Linked DNA regions of Homo sapiens. The main gene of each other region encodes a partner of the protein of the gene in region 3 in a complex. Each region holds a gene or a part of one and is shown on either strand. Other genes may lie near its edges.

Region 1 (7,442 bases), on a different chromosome or scaffold from region 3:
AAGGCGGGTGGATCACCTGAGGTCAGGAGTTCGACCAGCCTGGCCAACATGATGAAACCCCGTCTCTACTAAAATTACAAAAAATTAGCTGGGCGTGGTGGCAGGGGCCTGTAATCCCAGCTACTCGGGAGGCTGAAGCAGGAGAATGGCTTGAACCCGGGAGGCGGAGGTCGCGGTGAGCCGAGATGGTGCCGGTGCACTCCAGCCTGGGCAATAAGAGTGAAACTCCGTCTTGAAAAAAAAAATTCTTTAAAATTATTATTATTTGTAGAGAAGGGGGTCTCTTATGTTGCACAAGCTGGTCTCTAACTCTGGTCTCAAACAGTCCTTCTCCCTCAGACTCACTAAGTGCTAGCATTACAGTTGTGAGCCACTCCACCCGGCTCATTATGATTTCTTTTTTTTTGTTTTTGTTTTTGTTTTTTTTTTTAAGATGGAGTCTTGCTCTGTCGCCCTGGCTGGAGTGCAATGGTGCGATCTTGGCTCATGGCAACCTCCACCTCCTGGATTCAAGCAATTCTCTTGCCTCAGCCTCCCAAGTAGCTGGGATCACAGGCGTGCACCACCACGCCCAGCTAACTTTTGTGTTTTTATTAAAGACGGGGTTTTGCCTTGTTGGCCAGGCTGGTCTCGAACTTATGACCTCAGGTGATCCACCTGCCTCAGCCTCCCAAATTGCTGGGATTACAGGTGTGAGCCACCGCACCCCACCGCTCCTGGACCCACTTTAATCAATGGCACAGTCCTCACTCTGGCCCCTTCCCCATGCTTAGGGGTAGACATCCCCTATAGTCAAACCCTAGAACCTAGCTCCCCTCTCAGGTTCCCTTCTCACCTCCCTGGATGGTGCAGTGTCTTATCCTACCTGCTTCTTGAGGTATGTGACCTCCACGCTGGGCTCATCCCAAAGCTCCAGAGGGATCCCCAGATCCACCTTCACCCCCTTCTGCACTAGGCCTTTCAGTGTTGCCATGGTCTGACTCTGACCCTGAGAGATTAAGAATTTGGCATCAGCCCAGCTCACCACCCCACCCCTCCCTTCCCCTTTCTGCCATTTCAGTTTTGTCAACTACTGGAGATTCAAGGGTGAGTTCCATGATGGTGAGATGATGGGCAGATAACCTCTGGAGGGCCTCAGGGGATACAGATCTTTGTATCTGAGAAGTGGGGTCCTGCCCTGGGGAAGGGTCTGACCTTGGCATATCTCAGTGAGCCCTTGCGCTCAGCGTGAACACTATAGTCCAGGATCCGCTCACATAAATTCTCTAAGGCCTCTTCCAGCCTTGTCTCTCTGTGGAAAGAGAGGAAACAAAGATTCCCTGGATGCTGTAGGAACTCCCAGGGCTCCGTTGGGGGTTGGAAAGGGGAGGAGCACGAAGGACTCACGAAACGCTGTAAGGCACGTGTCTCTTCCTCTTGCCTGTATCCAGCACCTGCCCCAGCTCCAGCACCTCTCGAGATCGACCGGTGCGACTCAGTTCCGCCTGTAGCTCTGTGCTCAGCAGCTTACACACTGGTGGGGAGGAGAAACGTCCGGGGGGAGGTAAAAGACAAACACACCAGCCATTCATTCTGCAGATGACCTGAGGCAGCAGAGCATACAAGTGCAGACTATGGAGCCAGACTGGCTGGGTTGGAATCCTGGCTCAGCCATTTAGCAGCTGTGTGGCAATCTTCCTGCTTGCTGTGCCTCGGTTTCTTCATCTTTTTTTTTTTTTTTTTCAGACGGACTCTCGCTCTGTCGCCCAGGCTGTAGTGCAGTGGCGCAGTCTCGGCTCACTGCCAGCTCCGCCTCCTGGGTTCACGCCATTCTCCTGCCTCAGTCTCCCGAGTAGCTGGGACTACAGGCACCCACCACCACGCCCGGCTAATTTTTTGTATTTTTAGTAGAGACAGGGTTTCACCGTGTTAGCCAGGATGGTCTCGATCAGCTGACCTTGTGATCCGCCCGCCTTGGCCTCCCAAAGTACTGGGATTACAGGCGTGAGCCACCACGCCCGGCCGGTTTCTTCATCTTTATAATGGGATAATAGGCCAGGAGTGGTGGCTCACACCTGTAATCCCAGCACTTTGGGAGGCTGAGGCGGGCAGATCACTTGAGGAGTTCAAGACCAGCCTGGCCCACATGGTGAAACCCCATCTCTATTAAAAATACAAAAACTAGCCAGGTGTGGTGGTGCGCACCTGTAATAGCTACTCGGGAAGCTGAGGCAGGAGAATCACTCGAACCCAGGAGGTGGAGGTTGCAGTGAGCTGAGATCCCACCACTGCACCCCAGCCCAGGCAACAAAGGGAGACTCCATCTTAAAAAAAGTAAAATACATTAAAAATAAATAGGCCAGCACAGTGACTCATGCCTGTAATCCCAACACTTTGGGAGGCTGAGGTGGGTGGATCACGAGGTCAAGAGATTGAGACCATCCTGGCCAACATAGTGAAACCTTGTCTCTACTAAAAATACAAAAATTAGCTGGGCATGGTGGCGGGCGCCTGTAATCCCAGCTACTTGGGAGGCTGAGGCAGGAGAATCGCTTGAACCCGGGAGGCGGAGGTTGCAGTGAGCGAGATTGCACCACTGCACTCCAGCCTGGGCAACGGCATGAGACGCTGTCTGAAAAGAGAAAAAAAAAAAAAAAAAAAAAAAAAAAAAAAAAATATATATATATATATATATATATATAAAATTAATACAATTGGATAATAATAGTATGTCCCTCATAGGAGTGTGATGAAGATTAAATAAATCAACATATATAAAGGCTGGCACATAGTGAGCACTGTATAAGTATTCACTGTTATCCTGCAGTTATTTATTGAGCTCCTTCTGTATGCATACTAACAATATAGACAGCAATAAGACCTATTATCTCTATCTACAGGTCTCTGTCAGTGTAGTTGGGACAGATAAACCAAGGATGACAAGCTGTGGTGAAGCTGGGCCTGAACTCATGGGCTCAAGTGATCCTCCCACCTTGGCCTTCCAAAGTGCTGGGATTACAGATGTGAGCCACTGTGCCCAGGCCCGTTGGCTGTATTCTGATAGAAGGCCTGCAGAGGTGTTAAAGCAAGGACTGATACAATTAGGTGATTAAGTCTGTTTAAAAAGATTGACAGGTCAGGGGAGAAGAGCGGCACACGGAGGTGAAAGGAGACAGAGATGAGGACCAAGTCATGAGACTGTCATGACTGCCTTTCATGATACTGGAATACAGTTGAGGGGGTGAAGCGAAGAGAAAAGGAATCCAGGGAAGAAACGTAAAGTCAGGAGGGCAGCAAACTAGGGCATCAGGGCCAGCCCCCTTTCTCAACTGGGCCCCACGCTAGTGCAGCTATGGAAGGCGCTGCTTGCTGAAAAATCCATATAGTACGCACCGTCTGCAAAGTCTCACCGGATGGGGACACTCTCCTAGTTGTGTGGCTTCCTTTTGTTTATGAGCTTCAAAGGCTGAATTACTCACCCTCAAACCCCCTCAGCGGGGTGTGGGGCCTGTAATTTGGGAGCGTCTATGCTAGGGTAGGGCAGCGGATGTCCACAAGGCCTGAGCCTCACACCCGGCTCCTGCAGCCTCTGCAGATTAAGGTCTGGTGACATGAGGTAAACACTCACTGAAGATGCTCTAAAAGTTGGCAGTCCCGGGCCGATGGTCCCTGAACTACAATTCCCACAATCCATTGGCGGGCGGGGGGTTCCAAGCCAGCCAAAAAAATGCAGGCTCTCTCTGGATGCAGTTTGAGGTGGCACTACACGTTCGCTTCCTTGACCCCATCCAAATTCAGCCAAGCTCCACCAGAACCTCCCTCAAGCCTTCAAGGAGGTCGGGTGACCCACCCAATACAGGCTAGGATGTCCGGCCTAGAAGAAGGAGGTGTGGCCGGGCGATGCCTATAGGGGCTACCCCCTTCAAATACCTTCGCATTTGCTGGGCAAGCGTTCTGTGTCATCGTCCTCCTCCTTCAACATCCCAGCCCAAGCCTCGTGCACGGCCAAAAAAAGGAAAAGCAATATTCCCAACCGCACAGGTCCCATGACAAAGCGCCGTCTACAAACAATCACCGCTTGCCTTCAACTTCGGGAAGGTAGTGTGGGTCCCTTAAATTCCCAGGCGGCTAGCGGCAACCTTAAATCCAGCCGAGGAAGGTCGGCGCATGCGCAGGATCAGCCCAACAAGGGTGGGGCCTCGTTGCTACGGGTTTCCCTGCCTCCGTTTTGTGGCGCCTCTTGAAGGTCCTGGCAGCCGGGTAGTGAAGGAATAAATTGCAGTAATTACACCAAGAGGGAGTGCTCCTTATATATAGATGTAGAAACAAACTTTTAAAATATAATTTCATTCTGCGAGCCTAGAGGACTTATTCTGGTACGGGGAAGGGGCAGTGACTTGCTCTTAGGCTCTGCCAGGACCTGCTCCCACGAGGGGGCGGGGCCAAGATGGCGCCGAGCGCCGGGTGAGCAGCGTCTCGGCTGCCGCTAGAGTTTTCCTGCTCCCCGCGCTCGGGTGGCGGGGGCGGGTCTGAGTGGTACCCCGGAGGAGACCCTTTGAAGGTCCCTTGTGGGGACTGGAAAGAGGACGGTTGGTTGTGTGTCTGTGCTCGTGGGGACCCCGTGTGTGTGCCTGCATTGGAGAGATGTTGCAGGAGATGGGGTGGGCTCTCTGAACCTCCTTTCGCGCTGCCCGGGGATCTTCGACCTGCTTCTCTGCTGGGATCTCGCTTAAGTTAACCCTTCCCTGGGACGCCTTCCTGCCGCCTCCACTGATCTGAGGAGATCCTGTGACTGTAGCGTGTTTTATGAGCCTTTACTGGCAGAGGGTACCGCCGGGTATTGAAGGATTCGTAGGAGTTCGCCAGGGAAGTGGGACACGACCCCCTCTTGTAAACCCGGCGCCAGGCACAGAGTATGTCTCGAATAGTTGTGTTCCCTATAGATAAGACTTATAAAAGTCGGGGAGGAGATCAGGGATGGTTTGAAAAGAACCAATTTGTTTTTCGGCCTCCCTCTTCCCATCCTTCCAGCACGGCCCCACCCTACCTGTACTACTCCTAAGCAGTATTGATATGTTAATCTTCCTAATGTCCAACTGCAAGTGTGCCACTTTAATTTTTTTTTGTTTTTTTTTTGAGACAGGGTTTCCGTCTGTTACCCAGGCTGTTGTGCAGTGGCACCATCTTGGCTCACTGCAGCCTCCAACTCCTCAGTTCAAGCGATCCTCCTGCCTCAGCCTCCTAAGTAGCTGGGATGACAGGTTCACACCACCAGGTCCGTCTAATTTTTTAATTTTTGCAGAAATGGGGGTCTCACTATGTTGACCAGGCTGTCTCAAACTCCTGGCCTCAAACAATCCCCCCACCTCTGCCTTCCAAAGTGCTGGGATTACTGGGGTGAGTTACCTCTCTTGGCTCCAATTTGCTTTTTTTTTTTTTTTGAGATGGAGTCTCTCTCTATCGCCCAGGCTGGAGTGCAGTGGCACGATCTCGGTTCACTGCAACCTCCGCTTCCTGGTTCAAGCGGTTCTCCCACCTCAGCCTCCCAGATAGCTGGGACTACAGGCGCCCGCCACCATGTCTGGTTAATTTTTGTGTTTTTACAAAAAGACAGGGTTTCACCATGTTGGCCAGGGTGGTCTCGAACTCCTAACCTCAGGTGATCTTCCCGCCTTGGCCTCCCAAATTACAGGCGTGAGCCACTGCACCTGGCTCCACTTTGCTTTTTTTGTTTTTTTTTTTTTTTTGAGACAGAGTCTGGCTCTGTTGCCCAGGCTGGAGTGCAGTGGTGCGATCTCGGCTCACTGCAAGCTCCGCCTCCCGGGCTCACGCCATTCTCCTGCCTCAGCAGCCTCCCGAGTAGCAGGGACTATAGGTGCCTGCCACCATGCCTGGCTAATTTTTTCTATTTTTTAGTAGAGACGAGGTTTCACCTTGTTAGCCAGGATGGTCTCAATCTCCTGACCTAGTGATCCGCCCGCCTCGGCCTCCCAAAGTGCTGGGATTACAGGCGTGAGCCACCACGGCCGGCCCAGTTTGCTTTTAACTACAGTGTAGGCTCAAAGCTTGGGCCTATGACCTATTAATAATAGTGATACCAAGTATTTACTGAGCACCAATATCTCTAAGCCTTACAACTAATTCATTTACTTCACAAATATTTATGATGTCCCAGGCTGGGCTCCTGGAATACATCAGTGAACATAATAAAGAGCTCTGTCGGCCGGGCACAGTGGCTCACGCCTGTAATCCCAGCACTTTGGGAGGCCAGGGTGGGTGGAACACCTGAGGTCAGGAGTTCAAGACCAGCCTGAGCAACATGGTGAAACCCCATCTCTACTAAAAATACAAAAATTAGCCAGGTGTGGTGGCGCATGCCTGTAATCCCAGCTACGCAGGAGGCTGAGACAGGAGAATTGCTTGAATCTGGGAGGCGGAGGTTGCAGTGAGCCAAGATCGCGCCATTGCTCTCCAGCCTGGACAACAAGAGTGAAACTCTAGCTCAAAAAAAAAAAAAAAAAAAAAGAGCCCTGTCTAGATGGTGGACGGAGACGGGGTCTCACTCTGTTGCCAGGCTGGAGTGCAGTGGCACAACCTCTACTCACTGCAACCTCCACCTCCTGGGTTCAAGCAATTCTCCTGCCTCAGCCTCCCGAGTATCTGGGACTACAGGTGCACATCACCACGCCCAGCTAATTTTTGTATTTTTAGTAGAGATGGGGTTTAACCATGTTGGCCAGGATGGTCTCGATCTCTTGACCTCGTGATCTGCCCACCTCGGCCTCCCAAAGTGTTGGGATTACAGGCGTGAGCCACTGCGCCATGCCCAAAAGATGTTAAATGCTATGGAAAAGAAAAAGTGGGCTGCCCCCACTCTGAGGGCAGAGTGCAGAGTTAAATAGGGTGGTCAGGGTAGGCAGCCAATTAGATATTTGGGAAGAACATTCCAGGCAGAGGGAATGCAGCAAAGGCTATTAAGCAAGTACATACCTGGCAAGTTTAAGGAGCAGCCAGAAGGAATGTATGTGTCTGGATCAAAGTGGAAGAAGGAAGGGCGTTCAGAGATATAATGGGGAGAAGGTAATTTTGAAGGGCTTTGTAGGACATTATAAGGATTTCGTCTGTTTTTTTTGTTGTTGTTGTTGTTGTTTTTGAGAAGAAGTCTTGCTTTGTTGCCCAGGCTGGAGTGCAATGACACAGATCTTTGCTCACTGCAACCTCCGCCTCCCGGGTTCGAGTGATTCTTCTGCCTCAGCCTCCCGAGTAGCTGTGATTACAGGTGCCCGCCACCATGCCCATCTAATTTTTTTATTTTTAGTAGAGATAGGGTTTCACCATGTTGGCCAGGCTGGTCTTGAACTCCTGCCCTCAAGTGATCCGCCCACCTTCGTCTCCCAAAGTGCTAGGATTACAGGCGTGAGCCACTGTGCCTGGCCTGAGATGGGGTTTTGCTATGTTGCCCA
Region 2 (7,037 bases), on a different chromosome or scaffold from region 3:
GGTGTTTGTTTCTTCTAAAAGAAATGTTCTCAAGTTAAAGCAAGTATTAGAAGTTACCATTAATTCAAATAATGAACAAATAATGAACTTAAGAATTGCCTTAGGGTAACAATGTCTCCAAGCATTCAAGGGCAGATGTCTCTGTCGGTGTCACATTATATGTTAAATATGTTGGCATGTACTGAAAGCAGGTGCTAAATCTTTCAGACTGACTCTTCAACACTAGTACTGTAATATTTTTTTGCATGGTACAGGGAGTAAATGTAAAAGGGATAAGAGGAGAGATGGCTGTAGGCTATAGATTCTGGGGTAGGATTACTTCACAGAAAAGATAAGATTTGAGTTGAGCTGTGAAGTATGGTTGTATAAAGGTATAGAGTATTCCAGCTTAGAGAATCACATAAACTAAGCTGTCCAGGTGAGATTAAGCATAATAAAAGTACCAGTAAGGTGTTCAGCTCCCTATGCAGCTAGTTCATTCCAAGGGTGTCTGAGTAAAATGTTCAACAGAGTGAGATCAGGTTATGGAAGGACTTGAAAGCTAGACAAAAGAATTAAAACATGTAGTAGAAAACATTGCATACTCCTAAGTAGGGGAATAGTATGATTAAAGTGGTATTTTAAGAAAATTGTACTGACAGTGATGTGCATAAGAGATTGAAGTGGGCAGAACTTGAGACTATACTGAGATAGTGACAGTAAGAATAGAGAGAAAGGAAAAAAATCTGAAATCATGGTTAAAAAAAAAAAAAAAAGGTGGCCGAAGGGGACGGGGACAGGGTTAGAAACTACCAGGTTTTGGTTTGAGGCTGCAAAGCATATGGAGGAATTTAAGATTATTATATTTTTTAGACTGAGAGAGTAATAATAGCTTTAATAGGAATAGAAGAGATGAAATGCCTGTTTACATTCAGTAAGAAGAAGAGTATTCGTTTTATTTATTTTCTTTTTTTAATGCATCACAGAAGTAACCCATACTTATAGAAAAAAAAAATCAAAGACTGCAGAAGTATGTGGAGTTAGAAGTCAGTCTCCTGCTTCCACCACAGCCCTCGCCTCTACTGCAGCTTCCACCCCTCGAACTGTTAACCATTGGCTGAATATCCTTCCAGAGGTTTCTGTATGCATTACTACACATGCGTCCAATTCTAGCAATATTTGGATTCTTTTTCATTTTACAGTGTGATTTAATTTCAGACATACTGAGTTTGAAGTGATCAAATTTCAGGATTTCAGTTAAAAAGTCAGGATTTCAGTTAAATCCTTTAGGCTATTGAAAATCAGAAAATGGAATTTTCATAGACATTTTTAAAGATGTAGAGACCTTAAGCTCTGCTAAGAATAGGCATAAGAAAAACTTGCTTTTGTAAAGAAAAAAATCTCTATATCTAACTTTTTATCTCTGTTTTATGTGGTGTTTTCTAATTACATTTGAAAATTTATAGATAAATTATCTTTATGGCTAGGCATGTTGGTGGTGCACTGGTAGTCCCAGCTACTCAGAAGGTGAAGGTAGGAGGATGGCTTGAGCCTGGGAAGGTAAGGTTGCAGTGAGCCATGATTGCCCTTCTGCACTCCAGCCTGGGCAGCAGAGTGAGACCCTGTCTCAAAAAACGAACAAAAACCAAACTTTTATGATCTAAGCCTTCTTTGTAAATATTCTTAGATTTTAAAAATTGATTTAATGGTATAATTCATTCAATAGGTATTTATTGAGTGCCAGCTATGTGCCAGCCACTGTTTAAGATTCTGCAGATGCATCAGGGAACAACAGAGGAAATGTAACCAACATTGACTTTGTCAGCACAGCACACTACTTATTTGATGATTAAAAAAAAAAAAAAGGCCAGGCACATTGGCTCATGCCTGTTATCCCACCACTTTGGGAGGCAGAGGCAGGAGGATTGATTGAGGCCAGGAGTTCAAAACCAGCCTGAGCAACATAGCAAGAACTCATCTCTACAAAATTAAAAAAAAAAAAATTACCCAGGCATGGTGGCATGTGCTTATAGTCCCAGCTACTCAGGAGACTGAGAGGGGAAGATCGCTTGAGCCTAGAAGTTTGAGGCAGCAAGGAGCTGTGATCATACCACTGCACTTCAGCCTGGGCAACAAGCAAGATGCCATCTCTTTTTTTTTTTTTTTTCTGAGATGGAGTCTTGCTCTGTTGCCCAGGCTAGAGTGTAGTGGCACGATCTCGGCTCACTGCAACCTCCGCCTCCTGGGTTTGAGCAGTTCTCCTGCCTCAGTCCCCTGAGTAGCTGGGATTACAGGCCTGCGCCACCACGCCCGGCTAATTTTTGTATTTTTAGTAGAGACGGGGTTTCACCGTGTTGACCAGGTTGGTCTCGAACCCTTGACCTTGTGATCCGCCCACCTCGGCCTCTCAGTGCTGGGATTACAGGCGTGAGCCATCGCGCCCAGCTAAGATGCCATCTCTTAAAAAAAAAAAAAAAGACAAAACACTATTTTATTATTATTATTTTTGGGGCATTTTCTGTGTGTCAGGTGCTGTTCCAGATGCTTTTGATCATCTGTAAACTACTTTGAAATTTGTTCTATAATAGCTAATCATGAATGTGGTTTTTCTGTGGTGTTCTGGCTAGTTGTCTGATTATATTTAAACTTGACTTTAATAATCAGCTTAAACATGATTCTGTGATACTCTTTAAAATCTATTAAATTCTTTCCAATAACTAGGTTAAAATGTTTGATTCTGAGCTGCATATTTACTTACTACTTTTTCTTAATATTTAAAAATATATTCGTGGGATTTCTTCAAATAATTTGATTTGCTTTTCACTTTGTTTCAGATGGCCGAACAGACCCAATTTTGGATGATGTTGGTGAAGCTTTCCAGCTGATGGGGGTTAGTCTACATGAACTAGAAGACTATATTCACAACATTGAGCCTGTCACCTTCCCACACCAAATTCCGTCATTTCCTGTTAGCAAGAACAATGTACTTCAGTTTCCTCAACCTGGAAGTAAAGATGCAGAGGAAAGAAAAGAATACATTCCTGATTACCTGCCACCCATTGTGTCTTCTCAAGAAGGTTTGTGAGTGTTTCTTCTTCATATGTTAGTGATTATTTTAATGGATTTTTAATCCTCTTAGCTTTCCATGCTATGTCAACTTTATAAATTCTGGAAACACAATAGAAACATTTACTGTTACTTACAAATTATTCTAACCCTTAAACCAACAAACTTGCAACTGACATTACCAAGCCGAGTCACGGTGTAATCAAGGTCATGTCTGAAGCATTTATCTCCTTTGTAAAGTTCAAGTAGAGGAAAACAGTGAAGCCAAAGAGAAGCCTTTCAACAGCCCTATTATATGAGAATGGGATATTAGGTAAATTAGAAAACATTTGAAACAAAAAGAAAAATTGGGGTAGCTCTTTTCCTCCTCGCTTATTATTCAGGCCATGAGTTGAATGCCATGGCTTTATACTGGAAACAGTGAGTGAATCGTGAGTATTCAGTGACATTGTGTAGACTTCTGTTTTTTATCATGAGGAGCAATGTTTATTGTTTGATCATATAGAACTTTTGATTATAAAATGATAGCTAATCAGGTATAATGGTCAGTCCAATTGCAGAGTTCCCTTTTTTCCTGCATAATTTTAGATGTTGATCACTAAGTTCACTAAGATTCTAAGGAGATATTTAAGTAATTTCTGGTCTCTAACACAAGTACACGATATTTTTTCTTATAAGAGTTGGAAAAGTTGCAATAAGTTCTTTCATTTTGTAAAAAATTCTAAAACCTGTATACTTCAGGACAATGCAAATGATGCCAGCAATTACTTTTACTTATGATTTTCTATTGTAAAATATACATAACATAAATGGACCATTGTAAAGGTGTGCAGTTCTGTGGCATTAAGTATACATTGTTATTCAGCCATCATCCCCATCCTTCTCCAGAACTTTTGTTCCCTCCCAAATTGAAACACTGTTCCCATTAAACATAACTCCCCATTCTCCACCACTTCCAGCCCCTGGCAACCACCATTCCTTTTTTTGTCTCTCTGAATTTGTCTATTCTAGGTACCTTTTATAAATGGACTTGGACATTATTTGTCTTTTTATGACTGGCTTACTTCACTTAGTATGATGTCTTCAGGGTTCATTCATGTTGTAGCCTGTGTCGGGATTTCGTTGTGTGTTTCGTTGTGTGTTTAAGGCAGAATAATATATGTACATTCCACATTTGTTTATCCATTCACTCACTGATGGACATTTGGGTTGTTTCAACCTTTTGGCTCTTGTGATTAATGCCGCTATGAACATCGATGTGCAAATCTCTGTTCAAATTCTTGCTTTCAGGTGTTTTTTTTTGGGTCTGTACCTTGAAGTAGAATTGCTGGATCATATAGTAATTGTCTATTTAATTTTTGAGGAAGCACCACACTGTTTTCCACAGTGGCTGTACCATCTAAGCTTCCTATCAGCAGTGCCCAAGGGTTCCAATTTCTTGCAATTCATTTCTTAGAATCGGTTCTACTTTAATAGCATTTTGAAGTGTTACCTATTTGTCTCAGGAAGTATGTTTAAATTTGGCATAAGTTGTTGTACAGTCTGTGTGTCAGGGTTGCCTCATCTGAAAAACTGGACAGCTACTGGACCTAAGTGGTAGGGATTTGTTGTGAATTGGTGGCTCATCATTTAGGTGCTCTGGATCTTAGCTGCAGTGGGTTCTACTGAATGATACTAACACACCGACAGCCCAGAACCAAAACTAGGACTTTGATCATAATCTACACTTAACTATTTGGTCCTTCTTGTCTTATTTTTATAGCATGCAAATATTCCATAATAAAATTCTCTTAAAGTGCTATGGTTATCATATTTAAATACTAGCAAGGAAATGTAACTAAGATAACAGGTTTAGATTAGGTAGTGAAGAAGTATGAAAAACAATTTAGTGTTTTTTTTGTTTTGTTTTGTGTTGTTTTGATACTGACTTCTGGCTGAAATTACTATATTACTATAGATTTTTGGGTTTCTTTTCTGGGTTATTTGAAGCAAAAAAAGAAACTCATTTAGTTTTATGCAAACAATATAAATTATAAACATTTTAAAAGGAAAATAACAAATCTTGAGAACACTACTTTTCACTTTTTATCTAACACATGTGGATTAAGAAGGAAAAATATTGCTGATTTGTAATATATGCATATGGTTTATAAGGATGCAGTAAGTGGTAGGCAGTACAGTAAGATGCTTGTCAAAACGTTCTCCTCTTCATAAGAAAAGGATATAAAATGCAATTCTTTGGTTACCATTTAAAAATATAACCATACAAGACCATTTCTTGTCATTTACAATCTGAAATATTTTTTTTTCATGGGTACAGCATGTTAGAAAGTTCCTGGTATTCTGATTAGTGGTGCAAAGTGAGGTACAGAGGTGAACCCCTTTGATAATGATGCTGTTCACCATGCTCTTTATTTTCCTTTTATTTCCTTAAGAGCCACAGACAGGCCAGACTTTGGTCTTAAAATATTATTAGCAAGGTCCTTCCATGGGGTTCCCTCTTATCAGCCACTCAGCTTGGTTCATGTCAAAAAAGCCTGTGAAAGTCTCCCTCCACAGCAGCTGGAGCTGGCGAGTGTGCACACATAGAAGGCCTGAAGGGGCAGCAGGCTGTGAGAGGCACAGCGTGGACCTCACGGCATCACTGAGACATGACTCAGCGAGTCACTGAGTTTCTGGTCTTCCCAAGTCACTTTACCTTTCTGAACTTTATATTCATCTGTAAAATAAGTGTAATAACACCTACCACATTGGGGAAATGGAGAATCAAGTAATTTTTTTTTGTTAACACATTTATATAAAATTGGACAGTGTTTAACATATAAAATACATAACAGTGGGCCAGGTGTGATGGCTTATGCACTTTGGGAGGCTGAAGCTTGAGCCCAGGAGTTTGATACCAGCCTGGGCAACGTCATGAGACCTCATCTCTACTAAAAATAAAAAACTTGGCTGGGCGCAGTGGCTCACGCCTGTAATCCCAGCACTTTGGGAGGCGGAGACGGGCGGATCACGAGGTCAGGAGATCGAGACCATCCTGGCTAACACAGTGAAACCCCGTCTCTACTAAAGATACAAATATTAGCTGGGCGTGGTGGCGGGTGCCTGTAGTCCCAGCTACTCGGGAGGCTGAGGCAGGAGAATGGCGTGAACAGAGGAGGTGGAGCTTGCAGTGAGCCGAGATTGTGCCACTGTACTCCAGCCTGGGTGACGGAGCGAGACTCTGTCTCAAAAAAAAAAAAAAAAACAAAAACAAAAACTTAGCTGGGCATGGTGGTGCACGCTTGTAGTCCCAGCTATCAGAGTCTGTGGTGGGAGGATCAGTTGAGCCCAGGGGTCAAGGCTGCAGTGAGCTATGATCACACCACAGCACTCCAGCCTGAGTGACAGCGAGACCCTGTCTCAAAAAAAAATAAAACACATGACAGCGAATATTAGTTCTCGTCCCCTTTTTCTTTTCTTGCTCTTAAATAATTTACTTTTGAATTGAAATACAATATACATTAGTGAAGTCACGCTATAAGGGGAATCGGTGTCAAGCTGCATTCAGTGGCACACCCATAGTCCTAGCTACTTGGAAGGCCAAGGCAGGAAGATCGCTTGAGCCCAGGAGTTTGAGGCTGTAGTGCGCAATGATTGAGCCTGTGAATGCCCACTGCACTTCAGCCTGGGCAACATAGCAGGACCCTGTCTCTGAAAAAAAGAGACGAATCAATGTAAAGTAGTGTTACCATCACGTGCTGAGGATCTGAGGGAACAGACTTACTAGCTGGGCTGGATAGGTACTTGACTGAGGAGCTGTGTGATTATCCGCAGTGTGAAGATGACAGATGAGGAGATGATGTGGAAGGAGTTATTGCCTGCTTTATCTGATTATATGTTTAGAAGTGAGACCTCTTTGAAAATATTTTATACATGCATATTTTTGCTTGGACTGTTACAGTTCTGATGGCTGGTACCCAGTGTGTTTTATCCAAGAACATTCTCTCCCC
Region 3 (2,755 bases):
CATACCTCCTTAATGAAATCTTCCTTCATTGTTGCTGATTGCAACACCATATATGGTCCTATGAAGAGAGGGCAGGTTAAAGAAAGCAAAAATGTGCTGTACTTGTTCTGAGAGGTAGTATCCAGGCTGCCGTGCTGGACATTCTGGCCTGTGTCCTGGTTTTACCTTTGAACAAGGTTCCCTCTGAACAAGGAACCTAGGAGTCAGTGTGAGAATACTACTTCTGCTGTGGAGCAAGTCATCCCCATCTTTGGTCAGTCCAACAGCAGTGTTGGCCTCCCTCTGACAAGGCTGTTATCCTTTCTGTCTTAACTTAAGTGGCTACTCTGATTTGAAACGTGAGCTTTTTCCAAGCTTAGCAGGCACAACTGGGCAGTCCTGGTTGAGTGCCCCTGCTTCGCCATAGCCTGGTATCTCTGGAGCCGGTGTTTGTAAAGCTCACGAAGCAAGCCCTAAAGGGAAGCCACCAGTTTCCTGAATGGAAAGATTGCACTGTTCAGAAGAGAGTCCCTGCAAACAATGGACTGTCACTTTGTGCTCCCAAGTTAACCATTTTCAGCCCTATTTATTTAGTCGACAAATGCCATAATATTGGTATTTGGTCAAAAAGAATGAACAAAGTAAGTTGTTAATTTGGCTAGTAGCTAGTAATAGTAAAAGAATTCAGATCATGAAACCTATGATCTGAGTGTTTCCATGATGGACTGTGGTAGAAGTTGTTAGTCTTCAGTTTCCCTTCAATGCAGGTCATGAGATGTGAAATGTCAGCTCCCTTTGTGTGTGGCAACACTTTGAAATTGAGGCCCCTTCCCTATTGTGTCCATCATTGGAGAAAAGATTGGGGTCAGGGGACCCCAGAAAACACATGCTTGGCCAGGCGCAGTGGCTCATGCCTGTAATCCTAGCACTTTGGGAGGCCGAGCCTGGTGGATCACTTGAGGTTAGGAGTTTGACACCAGCCCGGCCAATGTAGTGAAACCCTGTCTCTACTAAAAATACAAAAATTAGCCAGGCGTGGTGGCACGTGCCTGTAATCCCAGCTACTGGGGAGGCTGAGGCAGGAGAATCACTTGAACTTGGGAGGCAGAGGTTGCAGTGAGCCGAAATCATGCCACTGCACTCCAGCCTGGGCAACAGAGCGAGATTCCATCTCAAAAAAAAAAAAAAGAAAGAAAGAAAACACATGCTTTGCCAGCTTATTCTCTAAGTCACCAAAACTCAAGAGCTGTCACTTTCTCCTGCTTTTAACTTTTTTGCCATTCTGCTAGCCTAGAGCAGTTTGGTGGATGAAATGGGTCCACTAGCCCATCTAAACATCTCTTGGGGCCTTGCAGACTGCTCTCTGGTTAAAAGGAATCTACTGAGATGCCTTGTGACTGCAGGTCTCTGAGGGCTGCGGCCTACAGTGTAGACCATGAGGCCTGCTAGCCACACAGAATGTTCCAGAAAGCTCCTGACTCCAGCTGCTGCTGTATAACTGCTTATTTGTCTCTCCTTTCAGAGAATGGCATTGATCCGGAAAACAACCAAGAAATAACACACGGAAAGGTCAGGGAATGGACAGCAATGTATTTGGAGATACTTGAGCTGAGAACTCAGCCATCTCATCCTTGGATTTTTTTTTTTAATGCTTTACAGAGAAGCATATATTTTTTATTAACAGTGCAGCAATATCTATAATGACTGAGAGGATCTGCCAAAAGAATAAAGCCTCCTACCCCAACTTCCGGTCCCTTTTCCCTGCCATCTCAAAGAGGAGCAATGTATCTTCCAGAGAAGATTTTATTTGTGGTTTATTATATAAGTGACTGAATATGGGACAAAGCATTATGGTCTTTTTGGGTAAGACAGTATTAGCAGGATTTGTAAAGGGTTTTGTTTCCTTCTCCCTTCCCCTTTTCCCTGTACTTTGTAATGTCAGTGTTTATATGAATATGACTTTCATTTGCTTTTCCAGAATAAAGAAGTTATTAATCGAAAGACAGGGTACCTTTGAAATCCCAGAGGGAGTCAGGACAAGCAAGCCTGGATTGTAGCTCTCTAGTCAGCAGGTGGCAGCATCGTTATTCATTTTGGTGTTTGAGAAAAACTCAGGGATTTTCCATCATTTTACCCCAAGGGAGGCCATAACATCAGCAGGAGTTTGAGTCCAGCTTCTCGGCCATAAGAATTGAGTAGGGTGACCTTCTCTCACGGCCCTCAACTGAAGAGGCATCCTTGTTTTGGCAATGTTATATGCCTAAAAACCCTTTTTGGTTTTTTTTGTTTTTTTTTAATTTTTTTTTTTTTGAGACGGAGTCTAGCTCTGTCACCCAGGCTAGAGTGCAGTGATGTGATCTTGGCTCACTGCCACCTCAGCCTCCCAGGTTTAAGCGATTCTCCTGCCTCAGATTCCCAAGTAACTGGGGTTACAGGCGCCTGCCGCCACACCGAGATAATTTTTGTATTTTTAGTGGAGATGGGGTTTTCACTGTGTTGGTCAGACAGGTCTCGCACTCCCAAAGTGCTGAGATTACAAGCGTGAGCCACCGCGCCCGGCCTAAAAACCCTTTTTGACCTGCTCTTCTGGAACTCCTGGAGAAAGCTGTGTTTGTCCCTGTCCCTGAGAAAGGATGGGAGTAGGCCCCTGTCCTCAGGATAGGCATGTCTGTGCAGGTGCCCATCTCTTCTTAGTTGCTGTTATCTTTGATCCTGGTGTTTTCACCATCATGCAGAAGAAACCAGGCGCCTTCCAGACCTCTGGGTCATGTCCTTC
Region 4 (7,037 bases), on a different chromosome or scaffold from region 3:
CATGAGCCACCACACCCAGCCAATTCTAGAGTATTTTCTAACAGTCACATTCTACCATAGAAGTACACACAGAGACTTTTTCTTTTTCTGTTTTGAGACAGGATCTCACTTTGTCGCCCAGTCTTGAGTACAGTGGCACAAACAGCTCACTGCAGCCTGGACCTCCTGGACTCAAATGAGTCTCCCACCTCAGCCTCCCTAGTAGCTGGGACTACAGGCATGCACTATTATACCTGGCTAATTTTATTTTTCCTAGAGACGGGATTTCACCATGTTGCCCAGGCTGGTCTCAAACTCCTGGGCTCAACCAGTCCTCCTGCCTCAGCCTCCCACAGTGCTAGGATTATGGGCATGAGCCACCACACCCGGCCTTCTTTCTTTTAATGTTATTTTTTATTCAATTTCTTCCTCTCATCCTCATTGCTTTTTGGAAGAGCTAGAACTCTCATTGACCAGAGTGTCTTACAGCTCAGTGGACATGCATATATGCAGAGTGCTCAAATCCAGCCTTTGGACTTGAGTCCTTCAGGGTAAAAGAATCAATATTCCTGCTCTGGAAGTGAAGCTTAGAGGGGTTTAACTGACCTTGGGTGCAGGATCTCAAAACTTATGTGTTGCTAGGATTCTATCTATAGCCTCATTTCCATCTTATCTCAGTTGTACTTGGCAAAAAGTAGATTCTGAAGTCATGCTGCTTGAGTTAGAATCCCATTCTGCCATTTTTAGCATGCTTGGGAAAGTCATTTCACCTCTCTGTGCCTAATCGTACTTAATAGGATGGGAGCAAGGATGAAAGATAACATGAGTAAAGCCCGTAGAACATTGCCTGGCCTGTTGTGTAAGTACTTGGAGCGAGTTAGCTAGTATTATCTTCTGGTGCTGCTCACTGATTTGTTGTGAGGCTCTAGGACTCTAAGCCAGCTGCGAGGTCTCTGTGACAGTGGACTCATGCCTCTCTTCCAATTCGCCAGTGATTGCTGCCAGACCTTTCACCATCCCCTACCTGACAGCTCTTCTTCCGTCTGAACTGGAGATGCAACAAATGGAAGAGACAGATTCCTCGGAGCAGGATGAACAGACAGACACAGAGAACCTTGCTCTTCATATCAGCATGGTGGGTTCCACCTTCTGCCTACCTCAGAGTATCCCCCAAACTGTCGCACACTGCCCTCAGTCTGTCACCCTGGGACCTGGACATGATCGACCTCAGGTCTCTTTGGCTTTCTGTTAGGGGCCTGCATAAGGGCTTGCGTGATGATCCAGATGTGACCCAATCTCCTGCTTAGAGACACATCCGTGTCCTGGGGATTCACTCGTTCATTCAACAAATACAGTTCCAGGTGCTGGGATATTAGTAGGAAGCCAAATAAACAAAATTCCCTGTCCTCATGGGGCTAATGAAAAATAATAAATGAGGAGATAGGAAGTGGGGATGGGAATGGGAGGGATGCAGTATTAGGTAGAGTGACCGAGAAGGGGGCATTTGAGTAAAGACCGGAAGGGAACAAGGCATGGACATGTCTGGGGGTGGAGCCATTCTAGGCAGCAGGGGCAGCAGATGCAAAGGCCCTGAGGCAGGAGCTCCCCTGTTGTATTGAAGAACAGCAAGGACATCAGGGTGGCCAGAGTGGAGTGAACAAGGAGGAGAACAGTAGGGGATGAGGTCCGAGAGGGCCCACGGGGAGTCAGATCTTACAGGGTCTTAAAGGTTAGATTAGACACTTTGCCATTTACTCAGTAAGGTGGACCCACTGGAGATGTTGAGCAGAGGAGGGTCAGGATCCAAGGTAGGTTTGCTAACAGGGTCAGTCAGGTTGCTGTGCTGAGGATGGGCTATAGAGGGCAGGCAGAAGCAGGGAGACCAGTTAGGATGCTGTCACAGTAAACTGAGAGATGGTAGGAGGAGCAAAAATAAGGAGATGTGGTCACCTAGATCATTTGGTCAGATTCTAGATCACTTTCAGAGCAGAGCCAGTTGATAGAGTAGATATGAGAGTTAAAGAAAACGGTAAGGTTTTTTGCCTGAACAATAGGAAAGATGGAATTGCCTTCAGCCAAGATAGGAACAACCACCGGGTAGAACAGGTGTGTGGGGGAAGTCAGGAGTTGATGTTCGTGTCTTAAACATAGATGTGTTAAGTTTGAGATGCTTGTTAGACATCAGGCGGTGATGTCAGGTGAAGAATTGGATATATAATTGGAGTTTGAGGAGCAGTTAGGGCAGGAGATGCGTATTTGGGAGCCAGCAGCCTGTAGGTCGTGTCTAAAAACATGAGCGTGGATGAGCTCTTCCAGGGATGAGTGAGGATAAGAAGAGGAGGCACATTGAGTCCTGGAGCTGTTGCTGTGTGTAGAGCTTGAAGAGATGAGGAAGAACCAGCATGGAGGTGGGAGAACTGGAAGAGGGCTGTGTCCTGGAGGCCAAGGGAAGTAAGTGTTTCAGGGAGAAAAGAGCAATTAGCTGTGTCCAAAGCTGTGGGTGGCTCCAATGGTAGGAGGACTGAGAATTCAACCATTAGATCTGGCAGTGTGGATGTCATTTGTGACCTTGATGAGAGCCATTTCAGTAAGAATGAGAGCGAAGACCTGGAGTAAATTCAGAGAGAATGGGAGGAGAGAAGAGGAGTCAGTGAGTATAGACTTGTGCTGTCCCTTATAGCAGCCACTAGCCACGTGTAGGTATTTAAATTTAAATTAATGAAATAAAACTAAAGGCCGGGCGCGGTGGCTCACGTCTGTAATCCTAGCACTTTGGGAGGCTGAGGTGGGCAGATCACGAGGTCAGGAGATCGAGACCATCCTGGCTAACATGGTGAAACCCGATCTCTACTAAAAATACAAAAAAAAAATTAGCCAGGCGTGGTGGCAGGCGCCTGTAGTCCCAGCTATTTGGGAGCCCGGGGCAGGAGAATGGCGTGAACCTGGGAGATGGAGCTTGGCGTGAGCCAAGATCGCGCCACTGCACTCCAGCCTGGGCGACACAGCAAGACTCTGTCTCAAAAGAAAAGAACTGAAAATCAGTTCCTTAACCTCACTAGCCACATTCATTTCAAGTGTCTGATAGCCACATACGGCCAGTGGCTGCTCTACTAGGCAGTGCAAATATTGAACATTTCCATTGGCACAGAAAGTCGTGTGGTGTTCCTGCAGTACAGGGAGGGAGAGTGATGCAGTGGTAACTAAAAGGGGGAAAATGAAGGAATTAAGAGAGGTGTTTCGTGTTTTTATTTTTTAAGATAAAAGAAATAACGTGTTTGTATGCTGTTGGGAATGATCTAGTCAAAAGGGAAAATGGATACAGGAGAGAAAGAAAAGTCTGGGAATGATGTCATTTGGTAGACGAGAGGGGATGGGCCCGTGACCAAATGGAGGGACTAGCCTTCTTCTGGACATTTCATACCCAGGATAGGAGACAACATGTGGGTTCAGAGACAAAGGTGGGCAAGGAGGTGTTCTAGTCCTAGTTTGTTTTAGGGTATACTTTCTTTTCTGCTCACCGGTGTGTCATACTCAGCGAGTGAAAGGATAAGAGCCCCCTCTTGTTCCTGCACCCTTGGAGAAAGTGCCAAGTACAATCGCAGAACCGCCAGAAGCTGGAATGCCCTTAAGGCTAATAGGGTTATATAGTCAGGTTGCCATATTCAACCATCCTTTAAAATCAGCACTAGTTTGGATGCCTTAGTGGCTGTAGTTGGACTGAGCATCCCTTATGTTCTCTAAGATGTGATACCCCAAATGGCAGCCAGCCACCCTGGGTTGCTAGTGGAATATGCCTGTGTCATCTCTATTTGCTGAAGGTCTTATTTGCCTGGACATACTTTTTTTTTTTTTTTTTTTTTTTTTTTTTTTTTAGATAGAGTCTCGCTCCGTCACCCAGGCTGGAGTGCAGTGGCAAGATCTTGGCTCACTGCAACCTCCGCCTCCTGGGTTCAAGCGATTCTCCAGCCTCAGCCTCCTGAGTAGCTGGAATTACAGGTACGCACCACCACGCCCGGCTAATTTTTGTATTTTTAGTAGAGACGGGGTTTCACCGTGTTGGTCACGCTGGTCTTGAACTCCTGACCTCATGATCCACCCTCCTTGGCCTCCCAAAGTGCTGGGATTACAGGCGTGAGCCACCACACCCGGCCTGGATATACTTTTTTTTTTTTTAAATATTGAATTATTCCTTTCAGAATTAGGGCTGGGAGACCATGGCTTTAAATAAAGCAGAGGAAATTGTTATTGTACGCTTCTGTTAATTTGGGCTGAGATATGGTGATTGGGTCATGGACTAAGTTGAGGTTCACCTTATGAGAAAGAGGAATCATGTAAACAAACGTCATCATACCTTTGTAAGTACAATATAGTTAAAGGGCTTGGACATGCATTCACTGACGGTCCCGTAGTGATGTGAGGTCATGGTGGTAATTGAACCTAAAGAGTGTCAGCAACCGCCTGAGGACTCTTGAATACCATGAGGCCAAGCCAGGGTTGCAGACAGCAGGAGTGTAGGAAGGCCTGAGTCTTAGAGTCAGACTTGCCTAGCTTCAAATCCAGGCTGTGCTGCTTGCCACATGTGTGACCGTGATTGTGTTACTTTACGCCTTAGTCTATTTTCTTGTAAGTAGAAACAGAAACACCTACCTCAAGGGACAGGGGGAGCGTGAGACAGAGCTGGTATCTATCAGGTGCCTGGCATGTGGCAGCTCCTAGCACACACTGCTCCCTCCCCTGCTGTTTTAGGCTATCTAACCATATGCCCTTCTGTGAAAAATAAAATCAAATGACTCCAAGACAAAGATTCTAGTGACAATTTACTACAGTCAGTTGGACCTAATGTTATTTTGTTAGACTAGGAAATACAATCATATGTTTCAAAATGCAGAGTGTGCAAAAAGATGTATGGTGACAATCCCTCCCATCCTGTTCCCTGTTACCCACTTTCCCTCCCACAGAGCAACTGTCTCACCAGCCTCTTATGTAGCCTTCTAGAGACATTTTTTTAAATTGTTATTTTGAACTGAAACAGCAGATCACAAACTGTTCTCTTCTTGCTTTTTTCCTGGCTGTATCTTGGCGGTCATTCCACATCTGTAAGGGAGGAGGCGCATCGTTCCTCACAGCTACTTTATCTTCCATTGTATGGATGTAACCATTTAATTTATCTAGTCCCCCATGAACACTTAGGTTGTTTTCTGTCTTTACCATTTACAGACATTGTTATAGCAAAGTAAATAACTGGTTTTTTTGTTTGTTTTTTTTTTTGAGACCGAGTCTCGCTCTGTCACCCAGGCTGCAGTGCAGTGGCGTGATCTCGGCTCGCTGCAAGCTCCGCCTCCCGGGTTCATGCCATTCTCCTGCCTCAGCCTCCCCAGCAGCTAGGACTACAGGCGCCCGCCACCACGCCCGGCTAATTTTTTTGTATTTTTAGTAGAGGCGGGGTTTCACCGTGTTAGCCAGGATGGTCTCGATCTCCCGACCTCGTGATCCGCCCGCCTCAGCCTCCCAAAGTGCTGGGATTACAGGCGTGAGCCACCACGCCCAGCCAATAACAGGTATTTTAAATTATTATTTTATCTCTTGATGAGAGTGCACCTCTCAAGGTCTGTTGTTAGGCAGTACATTATTTAACCTGGTTCTAGTTTCTCCATGTACTTGAACATAAAGGAGCTATTCATTTTAAATTCATGTATAATTTAAATTCATGTATAATAGATTCTTTTCTCACACATTTGAACCAGCTGCTCTCTGCAGCCAACCCAGATATCTAAGCTTTTACTCTTTTATGAAAAATATACCAGTCACTCACTCAACCAGTGTTTATTTAGCACCTAGTATGTGCCAGATATTTTTTCTGGCTGCTTGGGATAAAGCAGTGAGAAAAACAAAGAAAACCTCTGCCTTTTAGGAGCAGAGTTTGGCTGTGGGAGAATGATACCAAACACAATATATGACTAAATCGTTGCATAGTATATCAGAAATGAAAGTGCTGTGTGGGGGAAAAACAGTAGGGGAAGATCCAGGGTGAGGAGGAGTCTTCAGTTTTTAAGTGGGGTGCTCGGAGTAGGCATTACTGAGAAGGGGATATCTGAGCAGGAGCTTGAAATGGGTGAGGGAGTGAGCCATGTGGATATCTGGGGAAGAGTGTTCTGGCAGAGGGAATGGGCAGTGCAAAGGCCCTGTGGAATAGTGAGTGGCTTGTGGGAGGGAGGGTCAGATTGGGTAGGGCCTTGTAGGCTATTTTAAGAGCTGGCTTTTAACTAAGAGAGATGGGAGTTGTGGGAGGGCGTGGAGCAGAGGAGGGATGTTTCTGAGCTTCTTAAAGCACCACTCTGATGGCTCGGTAAGAACGGACTAGAGAGATCAGTCAGGAAGCTGTCGCTATAGCCTAGGCGAGAGGCAGTGGTGGGCCCAAGTAGAGTGGTTGCCACAGAGGTGGTGGAAGTGGTCAGTGCCTGCCTGAATTTTGAAGGTAAGTCCAAGAGGCTGTGCTAACAGATTGGGTATGGGATGTCAGTGAAGGAAAAGGAGTGTGCCAGGTGTGGTGGTGCATGCCCATAGTTGCAGTCACTTGGGAAGCTGAGGCAGGAAGATTGAGCCCAGGAATTTGAGTCCAGTTTTGGGCAACATAGTGAGACCCTGTTTAAAAATAAAAGAAAGAAAACAAGCAAGAATGACCACAGAGTTTGTGACTCGAGCCATTAGAAGGATGGAGTTGCCATCACTTGTGATGGGAGGGACTGAGAAGCGCCGTTTACACCACAGGGGAAGGTCCCCAATTCAGACTTAGGTGCCTGAAGTCTGAACTGCCTACCTGATACCCCAGTGGAAATGCTGAGTGAGCAGCTGGCTGCATGAGCCTGGAAGTCGGGAGAGGTTAGGGCTGGCATTGTACTCCAGGGAGCTGTTGGCGTAGAGATGGCACTGAGAGCTGGGAGACTGGATGCAGTCACCACAGAGGGTGTAGGCCTTGCTAGAGCTCACAGGCAATTCAGGGAGCTCCTGACGGACCATTCTGCTCCCACTTTTTTTTACAAATCTCTGGGTCAGTTTGA

The links.
Region 1: TAF12 (region 3) and TAF6 share a complex: the UniProt entries of both Homo sapiens proteins name them as parts of the TFIID basal transcription factor complex.
Region 2: TAF12 (region 3) and TAF3 share a complex: the UniProt entries of both Homo sapiens proteins name them as parts of the TFIID basal transcription factor complex.
Region 4: TAF12 (region 3) and TAF8 share a complex: the UniProt entries of both Homo sapiens proteins name them as parts of the TFIID basal transcription factor complex.

Annotation. Positions count from the first base shown.
Region 1 is NC_000007.14:100,116,330-100,123,771, reverse strand, and holds the start of TAF6 (transcription initiation factor TFIID subunit 6), read left to right. Parts: upstream 1-4,413; 5' UTR 4,414-4,568; exon of another isoform or gene 4,569-4,892; intron 4,893-5,122; exon of another isoform or gene 5,123-5,297; coding exon of another isoform or gene 5,298-5,376; intron 5,377-6,757; exon of another isoform or gene 6,758-7,170; coding exon of another isoform or gene 7,171-7,258; intron 7,259-7,442. Other genes in the region: CNPY4 (protein canopy homolog 4 precursor), read right to left, coding at 866-988, 1,195-1,291, 1,387-1,513, 3,910-4,027. UniProt on the Homo sapiens protein: The TFIID basal transcription factor complex plays a major role in the initiation of RNA polymerase II (Pol II)-dependent transcription.
Region 2 is NC_000010.11:7,821,505-7,828,541, forward strand, and holds part of TAF3 (transcription initiation factor TFIID subunit 3), read left to right. Parts: intron 1-2,813; coding exon 2,814-3,056; intron 3,057-7,037. UniProt on the Homo sapiens protein: The TFIID basal transcription factor complex plays a major role in the initiation of RNA polymerase II (Pol II)-dependent transcription.
Region 3 is NC_000001.11:28,602,321-28,605,075, reverse strand, and holds the end of TAF12 (transcription initiation factor TFIID subunit 12), read left to right. Parts: intron 1-1,501; coding exon 1,502-1,537; 3' UTR 1,538-2,226; downstream 2,227-2,755. UniProt on the Homo sapiens protein: The TFIID basal transcription factor complex plays a major role in the initiation of RNA polymerase II (Pol II)-dependent transcription.
Region 4 is NC_000006.12:42,067,494-42,074,530, forward strand, and holds part of TAF8 (transcription initiation factor TFIID subunit 8), read left to right. Parts: intron 1-971; coding exon 972-1,114; intron 1,115-3,853; coding exon of another isoform or gene 3,854-3,975; intron 3,976-7,037. UniProt on the Homo sapiens protein: The TFIID basal transcription factor complex plays a major role in the initiation of RNA polymerase II (Pol II)-dependent transcription.